3 separate regions of the Homo sapiens genome follow, and regions 1 and 2 are each linked to region 3. The links come from fine-mapping of genetic effects on gene expression. A gene starts in region 3. Each other region holds a variant in brackets. All regions are shown on one strand. Distances are from middle to middle.

Region 1 (11,203 bases), 29 kb after region 3:
GGGCTTGTGGGAGCTCAGGAGTCTTCTCAGACCTCCTCATTGCTGTGCCAGGTGGAGGAGGTGTTTGTATTTACTGAGAGCAGTTGGGCCAATGGCCCATAGTCCTTGAGCACCCAGCTGACCCAGGCCACAGAGGCTGCTCATCTTGGTCTGGTGACCACAGGAGGCTGTGGCTGTTGGGATGACCCTCCCCAGTGTTGTTAACAACAGTCCCAGGCCATGTCCTGCTGGCCTTGAGTTCCCCTGTCCTCTTGTGAATGTCCCTAGAGCCATGGCCTCAAGGTTCCTGAAGTTCCCAATAATGTGACATGCTGCCCAGACCTCACTACACTCCTTTTTTATTTTGAGGCAGGGTCTCACTCTGTCACCCAGGCTGGAGTGCAGGGGCGTGATCACAGCTCACTGTAGCCCCTGCCTCCCGGGCTCAAGCCATCCTCCCACCTAAGCCTCCTGAATAACTAGGACCACAGGTGTCCACCACACCTGGCCCACTTTTGTATTTTCTGTCCAGACGGAGTCTTGCTATATTGCCCAGGCACGTCTCAAACTCCTGGGCTCAAGAGATCTGACTGCCTCAGCCTCCCAAAGTGCTGGGATTACAGGCATGAGCCACTGTGACCGGCACTCACGGCACTCCCTACCTGCCCCCTGCACCTCAAGAGTGAACCTTAAAAAATTGTTTTCAGGCCAGGTGTGGTGGCTCACACCTGTAATCCCAGCACTTTGGGAGGCCGAGGTGGGCAGATCTTCTGAGGTCAGGAGTTCGAGACCAGCCTGGCCAACATGGTGAAACCCCGTCTCTACTAAAAATACAAAAATTAGCCGGGCATGGTGGTGCACACCTGTAAGTCCAGCTACTAGGGAGGCTGAGGCAGGAGAATTGCTTGAACCCGGGAGGTGGAGGTTGCAGTGAGCCAAGATTGCGCCACTGCACTCCAGCCTGGGTGACAGAGCAAGACTCTATCTCAAAAAAAAAAAAAAAAAAAAAAAAATTTGTCTTCAGAGACCACAGGCTGGAAAACTAGATCTTGCCCTCAAATGTGTCTTGTTTGGCTGCTGCCTTCTTCTTTTTTTTTTTTTTAAATCATTTTAAAAATAGACGTAACATAAAATTTACCATCTTAAGCATATATATATATTTTTTTTCTTGAGAGAGAATCTTGCTCTGTCACCCAGGCTGGAGTGAAGTGGCATGATCTCGGCTCACTGCAACCTCTGCCTCCTGAGTTCAAGGAATTCTCCCACTTCAGCCTCCTGAGTAGCTGGGACTACAGGTGCACACCACCACACCTGGCTAATTTTTGTATTTTTAGTAGAGATGGGGTTTCACCATGTTGGCCAGGCTGGTCTTAAATTCCTGACCTCAGGTGATCCACCTGCTTAAGCCTCCCAAAGTGCTGGGATTATTGGCGTGAGCCACCGCGCCCGGCTGATCTGAAGCATTTTTGAGAGTAACGTTCAGCAGCAGTACATTCTCATTGTGCAACAACCATCACCATCTGATACAGTTTGGCTCTGTGTCCCCACCCAAATTTCATCTCGAATTGTAATCCCCACATGTCAAGGGAGGGACCTGGTGAGAGGTGAACGGATCATGGGGTGGTTTCCTCCATGCAGTTCTTGTGATAGTGAGTTCTCATGAGGTCTGATGGTTTAAAAGTGGCAGTTTGCCCTTCATGTGCTCACTATCTCTCTCCTGCCGCCATAGAAGACATGCTTTGTGTCTCCTCCTCCTTCTGCCAGGATTGTAAGTTTCCTGAGGCCTCCCCAGCCATGTGGAACTGTGAGTCAATTAAACCTCTTTTATTTATCTATCTATTTATTTATTTATTTATTTATTTTTATTTTTTGAGATGGAGTCTCTGTCTCCCAGGCTGGAGTACAGTGGCACAATCTCAGCTCACTGCAACTTTCGCCTCCTGGGTTCAAGTGATTCTCCTGTCTCCGGCTCCCGCATAGCTGGGACTACAGGTGTACACCACCACACCCGGCTTTTGTATTTTTAGTAGAGACAGGGTTTCACCATGTTGGCCAGGCTGGTCTCAGACTCCTGACCTCAAGTGATCCACCTGCCTCGGCCTCCCAAAGTGCTGGGATTACCGGTGTGAGTCACCATGCCTGATGAAACCTCTTTTCTTTATAAATTACCCAGTCTCAGGTATTTCTTTATAGCAGTGTGAAAACTGACTAATACACCATCCATCTCCAGAACTCTTTTCATCTTCTGCTACTGAAATTTGGGCCTCATTAAAGAGTAACTCCTCATTCGCCATCTGTCTCCGTGGGTTTGACTGCTCATGTAAGTGGAATCATCCAATATTTGTCCTTCTGTGACTGGCTTATTTCACTTAGTATAATGTCCTCAAAGTTCATCTATGTAGCATGCATCAGAATTTTCTTCCTTTTTAAGGCTGAGTAATATTGCATTGTATGGATATACCACGTTTTGTTTGTTTTGTTTTTCCATTCATCCATCCATGGGCTGCTTCCACCTTTTGGTTACTGTGAATAATGCTGCTATAAACATGAGTGTACAAGTATCTCTTTGAACCCCTCCTTTAAATTATTTTGGGTATATACCCAGAAATGGAATTGCTGGATCATATGATAGTTCAATTTTTAATTTTTTGAGGAACCATCATACTGTTTTCCATAGTGGCCGCACCATTTTACATTCCCACTAACAGTGCACACGGGTTCCAGTTTCTCCATATCCTTATCAGCACTTGTTTTTCATTTTCTTTATTTATTTGTAGAGATGAGGTCTCGCTATGTTGCCCAGACTAGAGTGCAGTGGCCGTTCATGGTCATAGCTCACTGTAGCCTCTGAACTCCTGGCCTCAGGCAATCTTTGTGCCTCAGCCTCCTGGAGTAGCTGGGACTCGCTCCTGCTTATTTTCATTTTTGTAACAGCCATCCTAATAGGTGTGCAGTGGTATCTCATAGTGGTTTTGATTTGCATTTCCCTAATGCCAGTGATATTAAATATCTTTTCATGTGTGTTTTAGTTATTTGTATGTCTTCTCTGGAGAAATTGCTATTCAAGTTCTTTGCTCATTCTTAAATTGGGTTTGTTGTTGTTGAGTTATAGTTCTTTATATATCCAGGATAATAACTCCTTATCAGATAAATGATTTGCGAGTATTTTCCACGTGTTGCCTTTTCACTCTGTTGATAGTGTCCTTTGTTATACAAAAGTTTTTAATTTTGATAAAGTCTGACTTACCTATTTTTTCTTTTATTGCCTGTGCTTTTGGTGTTATATCCAAGAAGTCATTGCCAAATTTAATGTCATGACATTTTCTCCTCTATTTTCTTCTGAGAGTTTTATAGTTTTAGCTCTCACATTTAGGTCTTTGGGGTTTTTTGTTTTTTGTTTTGACACAAGATCTTGCTGTATTGCCCAGGCTGCAGTGTGGTGGTATAGTCATGGCTCACTGTGGCCTTGGCCTCCTGGGCTCAAGTGATCTGCCCGCCTCAGCCTCCCTAGTAGCTGGGACCACAGGCGTGTGCCACTGTGCCCAGCTAATTTTGGTTACTTGTTGTAGAGACAGGGTTTCCCTATGTTGCCCAGGCTGGTCTTGAACTCCTGGGCTCGAGCACTCCTCCTACCTTGGCCTCCCAAAGTGCTGGGATTACACCACGCCTGGCCCTCTTTGATCTATTTTGAGTTAATTTTTGTATATGGTATAAGGTAAGGATCCAACTCCATTCTTTTGCCTGTGGATATCCAGTTTTCTCAGCACCATTTGTTGAAAAGATTATCCTTTCCCACATTAAATGATCTTGGCAACCTTGTCAAAAATCATTTAACCATATATGCGAGGGTTTATTTCTGGACTCTGTATTCCATTCCATTGCTCTTTATGTCTGTTTTAATGTCAGTACCACACTGCTTTGATTGCTGTAGCTTTTTTTTTTTTAATTTTTTTTTTATTTGAGATGGAGTCTTGCTCTGCTGCCCAGGCGGGAGTGCAGTGGTGCAATCTCAGCTCACTGCGACCTCTGCCTCTCGGGTTCAAGCGATTCTCCTGCCTCAGCCTCCTGAGTAGCTGGGATTACAGGCGCCTGCCATGAGGCCCGGCTAATTTTTGTATTTTTAGTAGAGATGGGGTTTCGTCACGTTGGCCAGGGTGGCCTCAAACTTCTGACCTCAGGTGATCCGCCTGCCTCGGCCTCCCAAAGTGCTGGGATTACAGGCATGAGCCACCGCGCCTGGCCAATTGCTGTAGCTTTTTAGTGAGTTTTGAAATCAGGAAGTGTGAGACCTTCAGTCTTTCAAGACTGTTTTAGCTATGTGGTGTCCCTTGATATGGATTTTTCTATTTCTTTAGAAAATGTCATTGGGATTTTGTTAGGCATTGCATTGAATCTGTAGATCACTTTGGGTAGTACTGACACCTTATCAATATTAAATCTTCTAATCCATGAACATGGAATGTCTTTCCATTTATTGGTGTCATCTTTAATTTCTTTCACCAATATCTTGTAGTTTTTAGCATACAATATTTAACCTTTGTTAAGTTTATTCCTCGGTACTTTATTCTTTTTGATGCTATTGTAAATGGAATTATTTTCTTAATTTCCTTTTTGGATTGTTTATTGTTAGTTGTAGAAATGTAACCGATTTTTGTGTGTTCATTTTGTATCCTTCAACTTTGCTGAATTTATTAGTTCTAATTGCCCTGCTTTTAAAATCAAATTAATTCCAACATTCAAATCTTAATTAAATTCACATAAAACTCTAGACTTCCTTTTTGTCATAAAATATTGGAAGATGTGGCACCTCTGAGCTGACATTCCCACATGGCACCCACCGCTTGAGGTCTAGTGGCAGCTCCTGCCTTTGGTGGAGGTGACCATCCTTTAGCACGCTCCAGCCCCACCACCCTTTCTGTCTCTGCTTACCAACCTCATCCACAAGTTCTGCTCTGGCTGGCCCCTCATGCATTCAGCATTCTTCCTACAGGTACTTACTGAACACCTACTGTGTACCAGGCACTGTTCCAGGCACTGGGAGTACAGTGCTGAACACAACAGACAAAAATCCCTGCCTTCGCATATATCATCTCGTTTAATCCTCGAGACAGCTTCCATGAGGTAGCCTCATTATACAAATAAGGAAACTAAGAGACATAGAGAACTTAAGAGACTTGTCCAAGGTTACCCAGCAGGTAAGGGGATGTCTGGATTAGAACCTGGGCAGCCTGGCTTTAGAATTCGAATTGTCAGCTGCTATTACTGCCCATCAGTGGCGGAAGGACCCAGAGGTGAAGACTTGGCAACAGAGGCAGGGTGGCGTGGACAGGGGACAGATAGGCCTGGCCGGTGGTCATACAGCCAGGATCAGGCCTTCTGTGGGCTCCACAGGGTGTGCTCCCAGGGCCGCCCCGCTGGCCTCTGGGCTGAGTTTCCTTGAGGTTGTCTGGATCCCAGACCCTCTGGCCTTCCCAGCTCAGCAGCTTCAGCCTGGGAGAGCCCGCTTTTCCTCAGCAGACAGCTGATGATCGTTGACTGGGCTTGGTGGGAGGTAAGGAGGTAACCAGCAGGTTTTCTTTCTGTGATGGTAAGAGGCCGCCTTGGAAGCAGACAGCTGAGAAAACACAAAGACCTGGGCTGGCTGGCCCCACCCTTGGTCGAGCCGCTTCTGCCTGTGAAGTGTAAATGCAGGTGGTGTCAAGCCGGCAGACAGGCCCAGCTCCCTCTTCCCCTTGAGCAGGCAGGGTGACGCCCCCTGCAGCAGGCCCGTGATTCAGTTGCTCTGGCTGATGAGGAGCCTGGGCCCGGGAGGAGTGTCGCACAGCCCCAGCCTGGTCCGTCCTCAGCCCTGGATTGACGTCCATGCTGTCCTGGGACCGTTTCAGCCGCCTAGTGGGGAGTCTGCTTTCTCCTCCGTCCTGTGTCTTGGGCTCAGGCATGTGCCTGCTGCCCCTTTGTGGCCACAAGTATGTATCGGGCCCAGGGTGGCACTCGGGACCCTCCCCTGTTGGGCTTAGAGACATGGACGGCCCTTGCTGGCTGGAAGCTGCGGTGAGTGTGTGAAGGGCCCTCAGTCTTCCCTGAGGAAGGCCCTGCCTGCTCTTGGCTCTCACTGCTCCCAGGCCATCTTCCATCCGCTTTCCCCAGGTGCCTCCGTTTCTCTCTGACTTCTTGCCTGTTTTCCCTAACTCTGAGAGATTGCCTGCCTTCAAGTGCAGGAGAAAGCAGACATCTTCCCTACAAGCCCGAGACCTAGCCCCCAGTAGAGCTGGCCAACCACCTGCCACGGAGCAGGCCACTGGTGCCTTGGCCAGAGTGCTCGTGGTGCCAGTCTGCTGCGTCTCAGTCACATTCCCCCTGCTTTGCTGCCCTCAAGAAGCCAGAGATGACCTAGTGTCTGACACCTCTGAACAAAGGGGCCTTTAGAGCCCCTTCCTCAACTCCCTCACCATCCCCCATGCTCCCCAGCCTGCCCTGGTTGCGGTTGCGGCCACTTCCTTTTGGGTGCCCCTCTGAGATTCTGGACAGAGCCCAGGAGCCCCCAGGTTCCCATTGTGATGCAAGGACAGAACAGAACCCTGGGCCGCAGGCAGGTGGCTGGTGGGTATCCCGCCTCCCACCCCCAGCAAACACTGGCAAACCCCACTCTC[C/T]CTGCATCAGGGTCTGAGTGCCTGGCAGGGGCGGCAGTGGAGATGATCAAGGTTAGTGCGCCCAGCCCCATGCTGAGGCAGCAGCCTTTCTGGGGAGGGAGGGGGCGTGGAAGGAGACTTCAACCTTTTGAAGAGGAAGTCAGTTCACTTATGTCAGGGTAGGGAGAGTAGGAATTACGTATTCTTTGAGACTGAAAAATTACTGGCCGGGCGCAGGGGCTCACAACGGTAATCCCAGCACTTTGGGAGGCTGAGGCGGGAAGACTGCTTGAGGCCAGGAATTCAAGGCCAGCTTGGGCAAAATGGCAAGACCCTTCTATACATTAAAAAAAAAAAAAAAATTAGCCGGGCGTGATGGTATGTGCTTGTAGTCCCAGCTACTCGGGAGGCTGAGATGGGAGGATGGCTTGAGTCCAGGAGGTCTAGGCTGCAGTGAGCCTAGATCGAGGCACTGCACTCCAGCCTGGGTGACAGAGTGAGACCCTGTCTCAAAAAGAAAAAAAAAAATTACTGAAAAGCATAAAGATTTTGTCAACTATAATTCCACAGCCCAGAGACCCCCACTTTTTAGTGCTGTACACTTAATGGTTTTTCAGATGTTTCTTGGACTTAATATGTTGATGAGCCTTTCCCCATGACATTTAAAACTCCTGATAAACATGAATGTAATGATGACAGAATAGTCTATGTACTATATATACACATTGTAATTCACCTGCCCACTCCTCTAAGGGTGCTTATTCAGGGTATTCTCAATTTTAGGACGAAAGCAGAAAGGCTGCCTCATGCAAACTGTCCCTACTCCCACCCAGGGGCCAAAGGACTTGAGCCGTCCTCTCATCAGGCACTGAGCGGGCAGAGAAGTGGCACAAGCTCTGCCTCCCTGCCTGGCCCGTGGCCCAGCGTGTTGCTAGGAAGGAATGTGTTTGTGCAGGTGGCGGCAGAGCTGACCTCCAGGGGTCTGGCCCTTGGGTCACCTGCTTGTCCCCCAGGAGGCCTGGCTGGGCCCCCAGCCTTTCACCTGGGTCTTGCATCTTGGAATCCCCCTGCCCCACCAAGAGCAGGCAGTGCCAGCTCCCTGGCCTTTTCCTCAGAGGTGGGGGTGGATCCCTTGGTCCACTTCCTCCCTGACCACTCAGAGCTGGCCTAGCTGCTGTGAGTCAGCCGTTCTCTCCCACCCTGGGAGACAGGGACCTCCGAGGCCGAACACTACCTTGTTTGATGACACAGACTTGTTTGATGACATCTCAACCATGTAAAGTAGGGAGATTTTACACACACCCCCAAAATCCAAATGTCCGGCCTGTCTTAACTATGGCTGATGCATGCTGCTGAGTGCTAAGGGGGCGGACTCTAAGCCTCTATTTTTATTTTATTTTTTTTAGACAGCCTCGCTCTGTCACCCTGGGGTACAGTGATGCTATCATAGCTTACTGCAGCTTCAAACTCCTGGGCTCAGGTGATCTCCCACCTAACCCCCCGGATTACAGCTGGGATTATAAGCGTGCACTGGTGCACTCGGCTGAGTTTTGAAACTTTTTGTAGAGATGGGGTCTTGCTGTGTTGCTCAGGCTGGCCTAGGCCTCTCTTGAAAGATGAGAATTTTGGCGATGCTGGGTGTGCGTTCTCACCTCCTGTCGTCCGAGGAGAGTACGTGGTGGCCGCCTTCTTAAAGGGTTCTTGGGAGCCAAGCCCTGCACAGCCCCTCACCTGCCTTACCTGGCTGTCCCCTGTAATCAGTGGACGTTGTTGCCTATCATTTAGTAATGAGAACCCAGCTGTGTAAACCTCCTAAACCACCACACAGGAATCTGGCTCTTAGCGCACCTTTCCCGAGGTGGGGGTTGCTCACCACAGGACGTTCTGCAAGAAAAGTACTAAACATGCCCTGACGGAAGCTGGAGCCAAAGTCTGTGTCTGTGAATTGTTTCCTGAGAGAGGTTTCTGGGGGTGGGCTGATGTGAGACCAGGGTCTAGGGCCTTGGGAGGGGATGGGTGGCTGGAGGACAGCGCCGGGGAAGGGTTGCTCCCCTGGGATCTGCCCTCATGGGACTGGCACCATGATGGTGTCCCCTCTTCTGGGGTCCGGATAAGCTAGGTAACCGTGGCTTCCTCATGGGGTGCACACCCCCTTCCCCCTATAAGAGCCTTGGCTGCCACAGCTTTCCTGCAAGGCAGATTGGGAGCAGGGGTGGACACAGGTTCTGAGTGTGCCCTGACCACTGGCAGACCCATCTCCACAGGCTGACTTGCCAGAGACCACCCCAAGTGGAAAATTCTGGGGGCTGGGCCAGGGTGGATCTAGGGCTCGGAGGACCTGGAGTATGTACCATCTGGGGGCCCTTTTAAAGAGAGAGAACATAAAATTACATAGACACAGGCAGGTACAGGACTTTGGGAGGGGCTCGTGTAGTGAGGGGTCCTGAGGGTGGGCTGCCGTTGGGTGGGCCCAGGGGGCATCGGGGTGGCCTTGGTTGCACTTGCCCTCTGGGCTTTCCTGAAGAGCTGGGGTTGGCTCTGTCCTGTGGAGGGAGAGGGTGCGGGAGGCTGTCAGCACCAGCCCAGGTTTCTCTCACCTGAAGTCCCAGGTGTGATGGGATGCTTGAACATAGGGGAACCTAAGGCCACAGCCTTAGAAGAAGCCACAGCCACATCAGTCATCCCTGGTGCTGGGCAGGAGGCCTGGGTGTAGGCTGGAGCTGAGGACTGAGGCTCACCTTGCTCCTGACTCTGTGCCCACAGGTAGAACACCTGAAGGAGAAGCTCATTAGCCAGGCCCAGGAAGTGAGCCGACTGCGATCTGAGCTGGTGAGGCCACAAGGCTGTCCTGGGGTAGCGCAGGGCCTGGCCTGCCTTGTGCAGATGGGCCCTGCCAGGGGCAGGGGTGCGACCCTCTCTCTCCTGAGCCCGCATATCCCACCCTGTCTCAGAAACACACCGAGAGCCTTATCCCCACCTCCTAGTACCCTCAGAGGCCTTGTGGCTCCAGGGGGTGGGAGGTTCCTTCTCTGTTGCTGACATTAAACGGGAGTGTGAACCCTGGTATAAATATGTCTCTCCTTGTGACTTTCACACTCAGAATAGGGTGGGGGCAGCAGGGAGAGCAGGCTCTGGGTCACCACCCTTCTCAACTCTGCCCTCCACTGTCTTTCTCTTGGTTTCTCTCTTGAGCTTGTTCCCTCCTCTCTTGCCCTTGCCTTTTTCTTTTTCTTTTTCTCCTTCCCTCTGCCTTTCTCCACACCTCTCCTCTCTTCCCTGCCCTTGTGCCATCTCCGCGGGCCTCTCTTCTTTCCCCCGTCATCTGCCCTCGCCACATGCGCCCCCTCGGCCCTGGCTCTCTGCAGGGGGGCACCGACTTGGAGAAGCACCGGGACCTGCTGATGGTGGAGAATGAGCGACTGAGGCAGGAGATGCGGCGCTGTGAGGCCGAGCTGCAAGAGCTGCGCACAAAGCCAGCAGGTCCCTGCCCAGGTTGTGAGCACAGCCAGGTGAGCAGAATGGCCGTGGTCCCCATGCTGGTCCTGGAGGGCCACCCCAGCTCCTCACAGTGAGCCTGTCCCTTGCACTCATCCAGTGCCTCCCAATGGCTGCAGGAGAGCGCCCAGCTCCGTGACAAGCTGTCCCAGCTGCAGCTGGAGATGGCGGAAAGCAAAGGCATGCTGTCAGAGCTGAACCTAGAGGTGCAGCAGAAGACCGACCGGCTGGCTGAGGTGGAGCTGCGACTCAAGGACTGCCTGGCTGAGAAGGCACAGGAGGAGGAGCGGCTTAGTCGGCGCCTGCGTGACAGCCACGAGACCATTGCCAGCCTGCGGGCCCAGTCCCCACCTGTCAAGGTGAGCCCTGGCCCACCTGATCTGTGCCTCAGCCCAAGGCCCCTGGCACCTGGGGCAGGGCTAGCCCATAAGGGGGGCTTGTCCTGGTGAATAGGTAGGTGTGTGTGGGTGGAAGAATCATTCCAGTTCTGTGCTTGGTCCTGCCCCTTCCCCTTCCTGTATCCAGGGCCAGGCACCGAGTAGGTATCCAACAGCTGAGGTGCCAGGCACAGATGCAGCGCAGCCCCTGGATTCTGCCCTCGTCTTTTTGCCTTTCTTGTCTGTACCCAGGATGGGGCCCCAGCCAGGCTCATAGTAGCCTCTTGTTAAGCTGAGAAGGTTCCAGGAGACCCCCCCAGCTTTCTGGAAAGCCAGGACCTCAAGGCTCCTCTAGTTTTTTTCTGGTTTCTGAGTGGGATGTTCCCGAGAGTTCCTTCCCCTGGCCTGCTGCGTCTCAGGCTCTTGGGTGAGGTACGGTGCCCGCTGGCTCCACGTGCCATTCCTCCCTCACCCTGCAGTATGTCATCAAGACAGTGGAGGTGGAGTCGTCCAAGACCAAGCAGGCCCTCAGCGAGTCCCAGGCCCGGAACCAGCACCTGCAGGAGCAGGTGGCTATGCAGAGGCAGGTGCTGAAGGAGATGGAACAGCAGCTGCAGAGCTCACACCAGCTGACCGCGCGGCTCCGGGCGCAGGTACCCAGGCTGTGTGGGGGCACATGCCCAGCCAGGAAGCCAGAGGCAGGCCCTTGGGCCAATGCATCGG
Region 2 (5,000 bases), 84 kb before region 3:
GCTGAGGTGGGTGGATCACCTGAGGTCAGGAGTTCAGGATCAGCCTGGCCAACATGGTGAAACCCCATCTCTACTAAAAATACAAAAATTAGCCAGGCGTGGTCATGGGCACCTATCATCCCAGCTACCCGGGAGGCTGAGGCAGGAGAATGGCTTGACCCTGGGAGGCAGAGGTTGCAGTGAGCCAAGATCACACCACTGTAATGCAGCCTGGGCAACAAAGTGAGACTCTGTCTCAAAATAATAATAATAATAATGTCTTTAAAAAGAAACACACATAAGACAAGTTTATTATTATTAATTTTAGAGACAGGGTCGTGCTCTTTCACCCAGGCTGGAGTGCAGTGACACGATCATAGCTCACTGCAGCCTCGAACTCCTGGGCTCAAGAAATCTCCCGCCTTGGCCTCCCAGTGTTCTGGGACTGTGTGTGAACCACCACGCCTGGCCAAGTTCATGTATTATGGTTGATGAATGTTGTGATGGGAGATTTGTAGGAATCTAGCCTTGTATTTCCCCTAGGAACAATGTTTCCATTTTTGCTAATTCAGTGTCCGCAGAGATCTTATAGGACATAATTACTACAAATCATGAGATTCAACTGCTTATGACTGAAAACTGGTACCAGGTCTCCCCACCCTCTCTTCTTGCCCCCACCCCCACCAGGAGGAGCAAAGCTCAGGAAAGCCATGCTTTTAGCTGTTACCCATCCTGCTGGGTGGGTTAGGCAAGAGTTTGGCAAATCAGATGGGACCCCAAAGGCACCTCCCAAGAGCTGTGCAGAGGCCCCCATTCCTGACAGTGCCTGTGCACCTGTGTCCACACTGAGAAGGCTGAGGTGTGGGTGGGAGGCAGCCAGGCGAAGGAATGGGGCTAACAGGCCTCACAGCAACATGGGGGGGCGTGGGAATGGGGGTCTCAGCCATGAGTCATCAGAGTGGTTGTTTGCTGGCCAGGCCAGCTTGACCAGAGAGGCAGGGGATTGTGTATGAGCTCTGCTCATCAGGGGAGATACACTGTCTGAGAACCATAGTCCCGGGGACATCTGAGTTGGTGAGGGCCACGTGTGGGATTCTGTCCAAGCTCCCTGCTTTGCAGATGGGGGACCTGGGTCCCCAAAGAAGTGAAGTGCTGAGATCTCCGGCTTGACCACTCCAAAAAAGAGGATGAAGAGGTCTTATGTGGGTCACTTGCTCCAGGCTGATTGCTCAATCTCAGTTACAGGGAAGCATACATCATCAGAAAATGAGGACAAATTTCCCTAATCTGGAAATGCCCCAGAAGCTAGCTCAATGTTTCCAAACAGAGACAGCTAGTAGCAATCAGCAAAGGTCCTATACATAGTTATTTTGTTAGAAAGAAAAAGATAGTTCATTTTCACAGCACCCTCAGCCTTCCTGTGGGCTGTCACATCATGAATTATGGACTCAAATAACATGGGGGACAGTGCCGAGCTGGCGCGTGTCAGAGGCGTCTGGTGAATTATCATGTTTGTGTTCTCCTGGGGGATCTCCAGCTAGAAATGCAAATCTTGGGCAATTAATATCAACATGCACAATTTAAACCCATTGCCTCTGATTAGATAAGCAGCCAGTAATGGCCTCATTTTTAAACAAACAAGTTTTGCTGGAGCCTTGATGAATGAATTTGCCAATTCATTGTCTAGGCCCGCTGGTTGCAGGCAGAATTCATTTGTTCTTGAGACAAACTGCTCACCGCATGTTTGTAGTGTGAAAAATTGCCGGTAAAAAGCTAGGGCTCTCTTTGATGGAAAATCTACCCTTATCTAGAGAAACAGGGTGGTACATGCCATTAGATGTGGGTGGCAATTCTGCTTCTGCCACTTCCTGGTAACCTTGGGCACGTCACTCCCCCTGCTCTGAGCCTCAATTTCCCCAACTGTCAGAGGCACAATAATCTCAGCCCTTTCCATGTCACAGGGGTATTTGTCAGTGCCCAGGAAGATAATGATGCAATGTCGTTTTGTAATCATTAATATCTGGGGCACTGGGGTCAGAAGTGTGGGTTTGAATTCTAGCTTTGCCGCTTCTTAGCT[G/C]TGTGGCCTTGGGAAAGTTACTCACCCCCTCTGAACTTCTATACCCTCATTTGGAAATGAGGATGAATAATAAGACCTACTTATGGGGATTGTTGTGAGACTTAAATGAGAGAGTATGTATTAGCATAACAGTATTACCACAAATTTAGCTGTTTAAAGTCACACATTTGCGATCTCAGTTTCTGTGGGTTAGAAGTCCGGACATGGCTTAGCTAGGTCCTCTGCAAGATTGTCATCAAGATGTCTTCCAGAGCAGGCTCTCATCTCAAGTCTGGATGGGGGAAGGACCCACTTCCAGGATCACATGGTTGTTGGTGTAATTCAGTTCCTTGGGGTTGTAGGACTGGGGCCCCAGCTCCCACTAGCAATTGGCCAGTGGCTGGCCTCAGGTCCTTGCCATGTGGGCCTTCTCCAACACAGCTGGCTGCTCCCTACATCAAAGTCATCAAGGGAGGCCAGGCACTGTGGCTCGTGCCTGTAATCCCAGCACTTTGCGAGGCCATGGCAGGAGGATTGCTCGAGCCCAGGAGTTCAAGACCAGCCTGAGCAACATAGGGAGACCCCGTCTCTATTACTTAAAATAAAAATCAAATAAAAAATAAATAAAGTCAGCAAGGGAGAGTCCCCTTGCAAGACAGAGATCACAATCCTGTGTGACATATTCTACCAGTGATAGCCCTTGTTGTATTCGATTGTTTAAAAGCAAGACACGTACCCCACCCATCCTCAAGGGAAGGGGACCACACAGAGGCGTGAACACCAGGAAGGGGGTAATAGGAGCCACTGAAGGGTGCCTGCAAAGGATGGAGCAGAGGGCCTGGCATATACAGACACTCAGTAAATGCTGATAATTGTGATGGTGACGAGGGGGAGGTGACAGTGAAGCAGAAGGAGAAGGAAAGAGCTTTGGTTCCTTTTCCACCTGGGCATCTTATTCCCAATTCCCTATGTGAAAGTGTCCTTCAGGATTTCCTAACTCTTCTGCTGGTTAAAAAAAAGAAAGAGGCCAGGCGCGGTGCCTCACACCTGTAATTTCAACACTTTGGGAGGCCAAGGCGGGTAGATCGCTTGAGCCCAGGAGTTTGAGACCAGCCTGGGCAACATGGCGAAACCCTGTCTCTACAAAAAGATAAAAAATTGTGGTGGTGCATACCTGTAGTTCCAGCTACTCAGGTGGGAGGATTGCTTGAGCCATGGAGGTCAAGGCTGCAGTAAGCCATGATCACGCCACTACACTCCTGCCTGGGCGACAGAGCCAGACCCTGTGAGAAAGAGAGAGAGAGAGAGACAGAGACAGAGACAGAGAGAGAGAGGAAGAGAAGAGGAGAGAGGAGAGAAGACAGAAGAGAGAGGAGAGAGAGAGAGACAGAAAGGAAGGAAAGAGAAGAATTTCGTAGCTGTGTGACCTCAGACAAGTTATTCAACCTCTCTGAGCATCATTTTCCTCATCTCTAAGGTACAACAGACAGTAAGACCCACCTCATTACAGTTGTTCTGATCCTTCAATGAGATGCAATGCATAAAGTACTTAACACGACGCTTGGCCCAGAAAAAACTCTCTACAATCACCAGCCAAAATCACCACCACTACACAGCTCCAGCTTAAAGGAGGCTGCAGAAGCGAGTCTTTCTTTTCCCCCAGAGTGCGTCTGTGATGTCAATGGATGCTGCTTTCTTCCAGGCGCATGCTGAGAAGCAACAATAAGCCCAAGGAGGAGAAGAGCGTGCTGATCCTTCCACCCCGGGCGGGCACCCCAAAGCTCTTCAACGCTGCCCTCGCTATGACAGGAAAGATGGGTGGCAAGGGGGCAAAAGGCGGCAAACTTGCTCACCTCCGGGCCCGGCTCAAAGAACTGGCCGCGCTGGAGGCGGCTGCAAAGCAGCAAGAGTTGGTGGAACAGGTAATGTGGTTGGGAACCCAGCCACCACGTTCATTTCAATATGTGTCAGGGAGAAGGCCAAGGGGTCTCCAAGAGTGGGCCACACATTTAGTTTTAGGGTCTTCCCCCTCCTTTTTCTATCAGTCAGGGCTCATTTGGTTACCAGTGACAGAGTGCAAGCTCAAATTAGCTTGAGAAAAACGGGAATTAGGGGTCACGTAATCGAAAAGTTCAGGCAAGCCTGGATCCAAAAGCCCGAAAGATGCCAACAGGACGAGTTTTCCCATCGTGTCATCTCTGCTTTATTCAGTGATGGTTTTATCTCCAGACAGGTTCTCAAGAGTTCTATCTAGGATGACATCCTCCTGGCATAGCAACTCCAACAGAAAGAAAGCACCTCTTTCCCAGGGATTCTAGCAAAAGTTCCAGGACTCACTGTCATTGGACAGAATTGGGTCACATGCCAATTCTTGAGCCATTCGGTGTGGCCAGGGCACTATGGTGCTCTAAAGAGGCCTGGGTCACATACCCGCCCCTGGACTGAGAGTAGGCTGGGAGCAGGATCTCTAAAAGGCAGTCTTGATACTGTTGCAGAGGTTAGAGGAGAGGGTATGAGAAGCAAATGTCCGGCCCCAGAAGACAGTGTGTCCTCATATTTAATACTGTGTCTGTGACAATTTAAGATATTTGGGTCAGGCATGGTAGCTCACACTTGTAATCCCAGCACTTTGAAAGGCCAAGGCAGGAGGATCTCTTCAGGCCAGGATTTCAAGACCAGCCTGGGCAACATAGCGAGAACTTGTCTCTACAAATTTTTTCTTTTTTTCTTTTTAATTAGCCAGGCTTAGTGGCACATGCCTGTGGTCCTAGCTACTTGGGAGGCTGAGTTGGGAGCATCACTTGAGCCCAGGAAGTCGAGACTGCAGTGAGCTATGATTGCACCATTGCACTCCAGCCTGGGTGACAGAGTGAGACCCTGTCTCAAAAAATGAAAAATAAAAATTTGAAAGTGAAAACCTCTCACACAGGCAAAATGCCAAATGTCCCCACCCCCATAAACCTAT
Region 3 (10,913 bases):
GCACATTCTGGTTGTCTGGGGTGGATGGAAGTTTGTCCCTCCCCTCCCTTGGAAGGTGGCAGATGGAAGCCACTGGAACCGCAGGATCCTTGCTGCTTCCTCTCGGTCACCTGGAAGCTGGTGGTGTCAGCGGGGCGGGCGGGAGGTTGACACTGGTGGCGATGACTCAGCACTGAGAGCTGTGGGAGTCTAGTTAATCAGCAGCGTCAAAACTTCCTGTTGCTGTTTGCAAACAAGGGCCACCCCCAGAGGAGGAGGACCAGAGCTAGGGGAGAGGCTGCGCACCACAGAACCTCAGCAAAGCGAAGCTACAGTTTAAAGGCAGCAGCAGCAGTGGTGCTAAGAGTTCAGCAGGTGGTCAGGGGCTGTGGCTATGGCTTTCCAGGAGCACGTGGCTTCCCTTATGGCCCCTGTCCCCATCTCCCCACCCAGGAGGAATTTTTTTTTCCCCCAGTAGTAGCTGATTGACTTACTGCAAGGAGCCCCAGTGAAGTGCCAGGGTGTGAGAGCAGGAATCATGGTGGTGGCACCAGATGAGACTCATCCGTCTAGGATGGGCCAGAGTGTTGGACCGCGGGGTACTGAGGCGTTCCAGGACTGACCTCAGAAGATCTCTGAGGGCTTAACAGCAGGCAGGGATTGGGAGCACTGAGTCAGTGCTCTCAGCCCCACCTGGCCTGGCCCAGCAGACAGAAACACTCCCGGCCTGAGCACCTGGCAGAAGAACCAGATACGCCCCTCTGGTGACAGCCATCGCTCAGATATCTTTATATATGCCTCATGCCTCCCAGGAGAACCAGCCAGGGCGAGAATTCCAGATCCAAGAGAAAAACTGTAAATTAGCGTGAAAAGTAGTTCTCGTCAAAAAATGCTGCCAACGACAGTGTAAATTTGGTACAGGCCTTCTGAGGGGCAATCTGGCAACATGTTTAGAAAGTGAAAAAAAAATGCTCAGACTCTTTATTCAGAAAGATTTTTTATGAAATTGACAACCTCTCTTCTCCCTTCCCTCCCCACACCAGGGAATGAACGGGCTGTGTGGGTGGCAATGGTGACAGCAATGCTGTTTATAAAAGTGACAAAAATGGGAGCTACTCAAATATCAGACCCTACGGAATGGCCAGCTCAGTCAGGGCACAGGCTCTCAGTGGAATATTATGCAGCCATTTAAAATAGTTTTTTGCTGGGTGCAGTGGCTCACAGCTGTAGTTCCAGTACACGGGAGGCTGAGGTGGGAGGACTGCTTCAACTCAGGAGTTTAAGGCTGCAGTGAGCTCTGATCATGCCACCTCACTCCAGCCTGGGTGAGAGAGCGAGACCCCAACTCTAAATAAGTGAATAAATGAAATACTTTTCAGCCATTTTTATTGAGTGCTAGGTGCGCCCCAGACACTGGAACCTCCATTCTGAATGTGACCTTGGCTTTATCCTATGATGTCTGCACTTCAGAAAAATGTAGGCATTAGCAGGAAAAAGTGACATGGAAAATGCTTATTATAATAATTAAAAAAAATTTAGAGATGGGAGTCTTGCTATGTTGGCCAGGCTGACCAACTCCTGGGCTTAAGCGATCCTCCCACCTCTGCCTTCCAAGAAGCTGGGACTACAGGCATGAGCCACCACACCCAGCACTTACATGATTCAAAGTAAGAAAAGGCAGAGTAAAAAATTCTATCCGGTCTTTGCCTCCCACTATAACTGCAGCTTGTGTTTGCAGAAATGCCAATTGTGTGCCAGATGCTGGGCTGAGGGTGCTATGTGCTTGCTCCAATTTACATCTCACCATAACTCAATGGGTTAGACACTAGCCCTACTCTCATTTTCACAGGAGGAAACTGAGGCACAGCAGAAGTGACTGAGCCAGTGAATGAGCTCAAACCCAGGTCTGCCTGGCCTCAGAACCACCTTTAGCCATCTCTCTATACTGTCTCTCCTTAACACAGAAATGACATCAGCTCAAGGTCAGATACTGGAAAGAAAAATCTGGGCCAATGACAATAAGTGAAGGGTGGTGGGATTTGGTGTTTTAGTTTTTGTGTTTTTCCTCTCTCTCTTGGTTTCTATTAGATTTGTGCAGAAAAAAAAAAATTTTAAGTTCAAAAACAAAAACTGCCACCTAGAATTTGCAGCAGGTGGGGAGAAGTGAATGAGGAAGTGGGGAAAAATGCGAAGGATGTTAATAACGCATGTGCTGGTTTAGAACCCGGAGCTATAACAATTTAGGAGCAAGGAGAGAAGCGGCAGAACACTTAGCAAGGAGGAGCCCGGCGGCTTCTGGAGGATGGTGGGAGGATCCTCGGGCTGAGAGGCGGGCCGGGGGCGGGGCTTATTTGGCCCGTGCTACTCTCAGGGCGGTTATTGCTAAATCTTTTTATTACCTGGTGCTTACGTCCATTATCTCCTCAATGTTTGCATTCCTCTCATTTTTTTAAGACTACAGGAAATGATAAAAGGGGAAAAAAAACCTCACAAAGCCTCCGTTTGCTTTTAGCCTTGGAGTGCTAGGAGGGAGGGAATCTCCGCCAAATTCCTCCTTGAGTCATAAGGCTTTAGGTTCCCCTAAACTGAGAGTTAGGGGAGAACTGTCGAGTTCAGTCTTTTTGGCCAATGCAGAAAGGCAGCCACCATTTGGATTTTAAAGCAAGGTGGTTTCCTTTTTATTTTCTAGTCCTCTTAGAAGGTTTTTTTTTTTTTTTTTTTTTTTTTTTTTTAAGACAGGATCTTGCTCTGTTGCCCAGGCTGGAGTACAGTGACACGATCATAGCTTACTGCAGCCTCAAACTCCTGGGCCCACGCCATCCTCCCGCCTCAGCCTCCTGAGTAGCTGGGACCACAGGCCTGTGCCACCGCGCCTGGCTTGTTGTTTTGTAGAGACAGGGTCTCAATATGTTGTTCAGGCTGGTCTAGAACTCCTGGCCTCAAGCGATCCTCCTGTCTCATGAGCCACTGTGCCTGGCCGGCAAGGTGATTTTCTTGGGGGAAAGATTGCCTTGGTTCTCTGAAAATGGGAGAACTGTTTTCCCCTGTTAATACAGCTTCTAGAAAGGAAGGGACACAGGGAGCAGGAAGGTGAGAGGGAGAGAAAAGAGTGAGAAAAGTACCATTAGTTTAAATATCACTTGAACACCTAATGCTTGCTGAGCTGGGTCTAGAGCAGACAAGGATGACAGGAATTTACAGTCCAGTCAAGGGACATCCAAGACCACCACCTCTCCATGCCCACTGAGGAGCCTGGCTTCCTGAGAGCTTGCAGCTGTGAGCCTTGTGCCAGACCCCCTGAGGTGCTCAGGGTGAGTCATGTGCCCAAGACCTGCAGTTGGTGACATGCAAAGCTGGAAACCAAATTCATGCTTATGGGGCTGGGTGCAGTGCCAGGCTCTTCACCTCCAAGAGCTCTTCCACGGGGTTTTTTTTTTTCTTTTTTTAGACAAAGTCTTGCTCTGTTGCCCAGGCTGGAGTGCAGTGGCATGATCTTTGCTCACTGCAACCTCCACCTCCTGGGTTCAAGCAATTCTCCTGCCTCAGCCTCCTAAGTAGCTGGGATTACAGGCGCCCACCAGCACATCGGGTAATTTTTGTATTTTTAATAGAGATGGGGTTTAGCCATGTTGGCCAGGCTGGTCTCGAACTGCTGACCTCAGGTGATTGCCCGCCTCAGCCTCCCAAAGTGCTGGGATTACAGGCGTGAGCCACCACGTCCAGCCTCCTCCGTAGTTCTTTCTGCGGTGCTCATGATGAATGATTTCAGAGGGATTGGAAGATTGGAAGATGTGGATTCAAAAAAGCAGCTAATTGGGTCAGGATTACTTAATATGCGGCTCACTCCAGAATGAGTTTCTCCAACTTCAATAAATGTTCTGTTACCCAGAAGCATGAGAGGACACACTTTTCACAGCTGCAGGGCACTCCTTCCTGACCACATGGAAATAATTGCTAAGGAGCCTTCTCTTACTTCCTTTTGGTAGAAATTATCATTACTTTACATGGGAAGAAAGTCTGTTTGGGTACATTTCACGCACCTGTTCTTCCCTTCTGAATTCTATGGGATCTATGGATTTATTCAATGAACATGTCTGTGATACCAGGCCCTGAGCTGGGGTCAGCTGAGGATTTCCCTGTGATCAAGTAACGAAAGGGTCCTGTCCTGAAGGAGCAGATGGTATACACAGGAACGCCATCATGATCCAGGGTCGGGGATGCTGCAGGGGGTGAGTTGAGCCCGCCTGCTGGTGCCTGGGAGGGTCAAAGAAGGTGACCTCTAAACTTGAAGGAGGGACAAGCAGGTATGGAATTGGCCAGGTAAGGGTTAGTGGAGGCAGATGAGAATGGGGTGAAGGAGAGGGGCTTTCCAGGCAGGGAGGACAACATTTGCAAAGGCTCGGAGAAGACTTGATCTGAGGTTAAATCATTTAAAATGGGAAAATCATGTAAATCTTATCTGTGCTTTACTCTGGGTTGCTATGAGAATCAGATTAAACACAATCTGACTTTTCATTCCCCTTCTTTCCTTCCCTTTGGGGAGCAGAACTCTCAGGCTCTTGGCCACTTCTCTGACGAATGCCTGAGCAGTAAAGGGTTTCAGGCCCTCTGAACACAAAGATGGGTCAGGTGTGGTGGCTCATGCTTGTAATCCCAGCACTTTGGGAGGTTGAGGCGGGCAGATCACCTCAGGTCAGGAGTTCGCAAGCAGCCTGGCCAACGTGGCAAAACCCCGTCTCTACTAAAAATACAAAAATTAGGAGTTTGAAAGCAGCCTGGCCAACATGGCAAAACACCGTCTCTACTAAAAATACAAAAATTAGCTGGGCGTGGTGGCGCATGCCTGTAATCCCAGCCACTTGGGAGGCTGAGGCAGGAGAATTGCTTGAACCCAGGAGGCAGAGATTTCAGTGAGCCGAGATTGCGCCACTGCACTCCAGCCTGGGCAACAGAGTGAGACTCTGTCTCAAAAAAAAAAAAAAAAAAAAGTCTATGGGCATACCACCGTGAACACACCTGATCTTGTCTGAACACAAAGATGGCGCTGCTAGTCCCTGCCTGGGGATGGGGTGGATGTGGGCGTGGAATTGCAGTGTTCTGGACACTGTCTTCTGTCTGGCCCTCCCTGAGACAGCTGTGCCTCTGCCAGAGTTCGGCAGGAAGGGTCAAGGCTAAGGCTGAACCCAAGAGTCCTCCCTCAAGGGTTTAGGACTTCAGTGTTGGAATGGCCAGGTTTCAGCAAAACTTGCACCTTTCCCGGGGCCAGGAGAGTTGGCAGCCTCCTATGCAAATCATCAGCGAAGTTTCTGGGTTAGAAATGACCTTGGAGTTGGTACGTAGTTCCTGATGACATTGTACATTCTTAAATTCCAACAACTGGGATGGGCATGGTATGGTGGCTCATGCAAATAATCCCAGCACTTTGGGAGGCTGAAGCAGGATGATCGCTTGAGGCTAAGATTCTGAGACCAACCAGGGCGACAGAGCTAGACCCCGACTCCACACAATATTCTTTTTAAAAAACTGAGTCATGCTGGGCACGGTGGCTCATGCCTGCAATCCCAACATTTTGGGAGGCCGAGGCAGGGGGATCACTTGAGGTCAGGAGTTCGAAACCAGCCTGTCCAACATGGTGAAACCCTGTCTCTACCAAAAATATAAAAAATTAGCTGGGTGTGGTGGTGTGCGCCTGTAATCCCACTGCACTCCAGCTTGGGTGACAGAGCGAGCCCCCGTCTCAAAAAAAAAAAAAAAAATTGAGTCAGGCACAGTGATTCACATCTTCACATCTGTAATCCCAGGACTTTGGAAAGCCAAGGTAGAAGGATCCCTTGAGCCCAGGAGTTTGAGACCAGCCTGGGCAACATAGTGAGACACCCCCATCTCTACTTAAAAAAAAAAAAAATTAGCTAGGCACACTGGTGTGTGCCTGTAGTCCCAGCTACTCAGGAGGCTCAGGTGGGAGGATCACTTGATCCCAGGAGTTCGGGGCTATAGTGAGCTATGATTGCATCACTGCACTCCAGCCTGGGCAACAGATCAAGATCTTGTCTCAAAAATGCAACAACCATGAAACAAGTAGTTTTTACGTTTCAAATCGGAGTTTTGCTAGAATTCCAAAAATACAACCTCCTTACACTTCAATTTCCTTTTTCCTTCGCTGGTGCTTTGATCTTAATAAGTTGTTATACCCATATGCATCTGATAGTACTGTGTGAGTACCTATTGGAGTCATAGCTCTATCACACACTGCATTTGTGAACAAACTTTCTGAGGCTCAGTTTCCTTTCCTGAAACACGGGTGTCCTGAAACAGTACTGGTGTTCATAGGGTGTTCAGGGTTAAATGGGATTTTGTTTATAAAGAGCTTAGTGCTGTGCCTGACACAGTGTTAGCTTCAATAATGGCATCTATTATGTACACAGGAAAAAAAAAGACTTCTAAAGTGTTGGCAGCATTTATCTCCAGTGTGTGGGATATGGTTACAATGAACATCTATTACTTTTGTAATCAAAGCAAAAGAACAATAAATGTTATTATTAATTTAAAAATCTGGCTTTGGCTTTGGTGGGAAGGACCTACAGTTAATGTCAATGTACTCAATCCCTGAGTAAGAAAAAGTCTCCAGTTTTGAACCAGGACTTTAAAGACATTCTGTCCTCCCCATCCCCCGCCCCATCAACTCATAGGGACTATAATCAAGGGAGATAGATACTAAATCAGAATTCTAGAGACATTTTGCCTTCATCCACCCTTGCGGTCCCCTGGATCACTGCTGTTTGGAGGGCAGGCAGAGGAATTCAGAGATCATAACTCCCCAAATAAGGCTTTCTCTCCCATTGGAAGGGTTCTCCAGTGTGGTGTTCAGCTGGAAATCTAACTCTCTAGGGAATGATTCCAGGAGCGTTACATTCACCCTCTATCAGGCCTTCACTGAGGAATCTCAGTTGTCAAATAAAGCATGCACTAGGCTGCTTCCAGCTGGGGGACTGTGACTGTCCTGCTCTGGCGTCCAGAACAATCTGAGGCCCAGGCCCTTGGCTCCGTCGCTGGTCGAGATTCTTGACTGGCAGCCCAGCGCCTGGGCGGCAGCAGGAGATAGAACCCACCTGGAGTTGCCCGACCCCCTCCAGTCCTCTCCTTGATCTTCTTGGGCCATCCCCTGACAAGCAGGAAGGGACAGAGTACCCGCCCTCCTGGGATTATCTGCAGAACCGTCAGCCTGCATGGGCTGGCTTCAGAGTGACTTGCTTTCTCCTCTTCCGCACCCGGGGGTGTGGAGAGTGAGGGAGAATATTGCTGCTGGCTCTGGAATAAAATGCTGCCTCTGTTTGGGAGACAAAGAACAGAGTGGCTCCTCCAGGTCAGCTGTCTCTCCCGGCTGGCAGGCCCCTGGCCTCCCCCAGGCCTCTTCTGAGGCTCTAGGTGCCCCAGTAGCAGGGCCTTCTGCAGCAAGGCCGGGAACTGCTGCACCATTGGTGTGTTTTACCTTAAGGGACTCCAGGCAGCTTCCTTGCTGGGAAGATATTCATTTGCTGGGGTGGGGCTGGGGGTGCAGAGGTAGGAAGTGCTGTGGCTAGAAGGCGGCCTGGCCAGCGAGTAGGTGGTGGAGCGAGTGAGAGCGTGTGCGCTGTAAACAGTGTGAGTGCATGTGCGCCAGCGCGTGCAAGGACACGGTAAGGGATGTACATGTATTGTCTCGTGAGTAAGAGCTTGTGTGTGTGTTGGGATGGGAAGACACGTACTGGTATGAGAGCCCGCGTGAGAAGTGTATGTGTGAGTACTCGCGTGGAAGTTTTGCACTCGGGTTTGAGGCTGTGCAAAAGTACGCATGGCTCACCAGGTGTGGGGCTGTGTGGGCTGCCTCGTGTGTGCCAGCCCGTGTGCAGGCCTGTTTTGTGAGAGCCTTCAGGGAACGCATGAGCACGTGTGCCAGTGCGAGTGCGGGACGCGGGGAGGCGGGAGAGACCGAGTGGGAGGCCCCGCGAAGGAGTGGGAGTGGGAGTGGGAGTGCCGGCGGGAGACCTGCGGGGGCGCGCCCGGGCTGACGCGTGCGCGCCAGTGCGCGTGAGTGCGGGCGCGCGCCGCCGCCCCCCGCCGGGGTCGGAGCCGGTTGCCATGGGAACGCGCCGCGGCCCGAGTTAATCATTTCCTGTGGAAAGTGTGCGGGAGGGGCGCGAGCGGGCTGGCCGAGGAGGAGGCGGCGGCGTGGAGCTGCCTCCTGCCGGCGGGCCGGGCCGGGCCGAGCCCCGGGCGCTGCGGCGACGCCTGGATCCTGCCTCCGCCAGGCCGGTGAGTGGGGGGCCCGGGCGGGCTGGGTGCGAGCGGGGCGCTGGGCTCTGCCCGGCCCGCCGTTTGGGGCGCCGCGTCCGGGCCGGCCCTGCCCTCGGGACCCCTCTGCCCGGACCCGCTATGGGCGCGGGGAGGGAAAGGCCCGGGAGACCCAGCCCTGCGAGGTCCCCTCCAGCGCCGTTCAGCCCGAGTCGAGGACCTTGCTGGGAGCTGGGCACAGGGGCGGCGTGTCCCACGGGATCCGAGCAGCCTCGGGACCCCGTTTGGATTTTATTGAACGAGAAGAGCGCAGACCCTACCCGGGATGGGCTTGTCAATCGGCGCCGCCCTCTCCCCTTCCTGGCGTCTTCCCCACCCCCAGGGCTCCCTGGAAGGCTGCCTTTGGGTCCCTCCCACCACGTCCCTTGGGGAGTTCGCTTTTTCCCTGGCAGGGCCTGGGGCGGGGTGCGCCCGCCCAGAGGTTAGGAAGAAGGGCCTTGGCCGGTGCCCTCCGGGCAGTGAGGAATCGGGCCATTGACAGCCGCAGCAGTTGTGAGGGTCTCAGCAGGGAGGGCGATCCCAGGACCACCCCTTTAAGCCCAGCATTGCTAGTTAGAGCAGAACTCTGGCTGGTGCAGTGAAGGGCCTGGTCCTGGGAGATATTAAAGAGGAAGCTGTGTTTAATTAAATTCTGGAGTACCATTTACTGCCACCCAGCCCCCACCTCCATACCCCAACACTGTCTCAAGATTGCGGGTTGTGGCCACCCCTGGTCTTTCACCTTCCCCGGCTTTTCCTCTGCCTGAACAGGGTGAGCACCCATTCTTTCCCAGACGTGTATTCCCCATGCCCTTGTTAGAGTAGCCGTCTCCTTGACCAGGGAGAGTCATTTGCTAGGAATGCAGTCTCAGAATGGGGCCCTGCATTTGCAGTGAGTGGACTTTAGGGGCACAGGGTGGTGAGTTCTGCTGTTCACAGGGGCACCAGGGAGCAGAGGGTTTGAAATCTAGGTTGCCCTGGAAAGCCCAGGATAGATGATGGTGTGCAGGGAGGTGGCATTCCCTGTACAACTTCCTTGACCTTCTGCCTGCTCTCCCAGGGCGACCAAGCCCTGCTTGCTGCAGTCTCTGAGCAGCTGTCCAGCCTGTCCCCCCAGTCTTTGCAATGTCCCTGATCTAGGGCAGGGGGAGTATTGCAGCTCTGCTGTCCTGGTCTAAACCCAGAGAGGCAGAGACCCTCTTCCCCAGCCAGGCCCTCTGCATTCACCCACCACTGGAGCAAAGTAACTGAAAAATAAAATTTTGGAGCTCTTTGTATATGCCAGTATTGTTCTGAACACTTGGCCTTGTCTAATCTTTAGAGCAACCCTATAAGGTGGTGTTCTCCCCATTTTATAGATGGAGATAATGAAGTACGGAGAGGCAAAGTAATTCTCCCAAGGTCAGACATCTAGTAAACAGGGGAGCCAGGTTCTGAACCAGTCCCACTGCCCTCCCCCACGAATCCTAGGTTGGTAGAAGTCCCCGGACACCAGGTTTCATCTCAGATGCCCATGTAAATGAGAGAGAGTCCTGCTTTCTTGGCCCAGAACCCTGGGCTTAAGATTCCTTGATACTTTTGACCTTCACACCCCTGAGGCTGCTAAATTCAGCTGCTTTTTCCTCTTCGGGATCTAGCACACGCCCTTCCTCTTTCTTCCCGATATCTTCCTGGCTGCCTCCTCCACTTCCCTTCCTGATAACCGCAGAAACGCTATCTCCTCCTGTCCCTGCCCCTCAGACTGAGCTGAGCTGATCTCCCTGAAAGTCTTCTCTGTCCACTGTGGAGTCAGCCTCCAATGCCCTGCACTGTCTCACCTTCCCAGCAGCCGAGACTGCAGATGGACCTGCCTTGCTCCTTCCCTTGCCCATTGGACAGCTGGTCTGCAGGGTTGGTTGTGTGCCCAGCTCTGTGCCAGGCAGCCTGGAGAAGAGGACATTTGGCTGCTCCCCTTGGTTTCTTCCACGCCACACTGGTCCATCTCAGTTTCCTCAGTGGAGCTGGCCCACGTATTTAGATCAGCCTCTGCCCTGTCCTTTGGCCCACATTCCCATCCCCTTCCCAGTAAGACTGAACCTAGGAGCCTCCTAGTTGTTCTAAGTCAAGGAAGGAAGAGACCATGGCTTCCTCGCCAGGTGCCTGGCATTCTTCCAGGGTTGGGCTCTGCAAACATCAGACACCAGATCTTCAGGCCCCTAACCCCTGGACCCTTTACTTTATTATTTATTTATTTATTTATTTTTGCCTCTCAATGCTTTAGTCACTCCTGTCTCTCTGTCTCCCCAATATGCTCAACTCTCCCCCTATTCTAGACACCACATCCTCTCCTTCCCATCCTAGCCAAACACCCCCAAGGAGAAGGAAGTGGCTGCTTCCTCCCCCAGCTCCCGCCCCACTCTTTGAGCCCTCCGAAGTTTGCCATCTGCCCTTCTCCCTCCACAGGCTCAGGCTTTCTGCCTGTCTGGGCTTTCAGTCCTCCACGTCTCTTTGGCATGATGCACTGGGCACTGACCAACCTCTCCTTCCCACTTACACTTCAGTCACTTCTGAAAACTCTATACTTGCCTGGAGCTCCTGTCCCTCTCTCAGCTTCCTTCTGCAGCTTTCCACCCCGCAGTGAGCCC

The links. PIP is the estimated chance that this variant, and not a neighbour inherited with it, causes the effect.
Region 1: its variant is the best candidate, but not a certain one, in a credible set for the expression of KIFC3 in whole blood (TOPMed, PIP 0.87).
Region 2: its variant is the best candidate, but not a certain one, in a credible set for the expression of KIFC3 in whole blood (TOPMed, PIP 0.88).

Annotation. Positions count from the first base shown.
Region 1 is chr16:57,770,457-57,781,659 of GRCh38, reverse strand. KIFC3 (kinesin family member C3) reads left to right here. Exons shown (of 20, transcript NM_001130100.2): 4 at 9,372-9,437; 5 at 9,974-10,117; 6 at 10,223-10,462; 7 at 10,960-11,133. It overlaps MIR6772 (microRNA 6772), which reads left to right and starts at 9,308; the gene lies at 9,308-9,371. RefSeq lists enhancers at 5,283-5,861, 5,830-5,889, 6,440-7,018. The variant C/T (reference allele first, on the strand shown) is at 6,630.
Region 2 is chr16:57,886,812-57,891,811 of GRCh38, reverse strand. CNGB1 (cyclic nucleotide gated channel subunit beta 1) reads left to right here. Exons shown (of 33, transcript NM_001297.5): 32 at 3,738-3,957. Among named protein-coding and RNA genes, the nearest start is that of CNGB1, 82 kb to the left of the region's middle. The variant G/C (reference allele first, on the strand shown) is at 2,057.
Region 3 is chr16:57,799,728-57,810,640 of GRCh38, reverse strand. KIFC3 (kinesin family member C3) reads left to right here and starts at 8,150. Exons shown (of 20, transcript NM_001130100.2): 1 at 8,150-8,271. It overlaps LOC388282 (a long non-coding RNA gene), which reads right to left and starts at 122. Exons shown (of 4, transcript NR_169553.1): 1 at 1-122. RefSeq lists enhancers at 28-87, 278-407, 7,177-7,853, 8,531-9,207.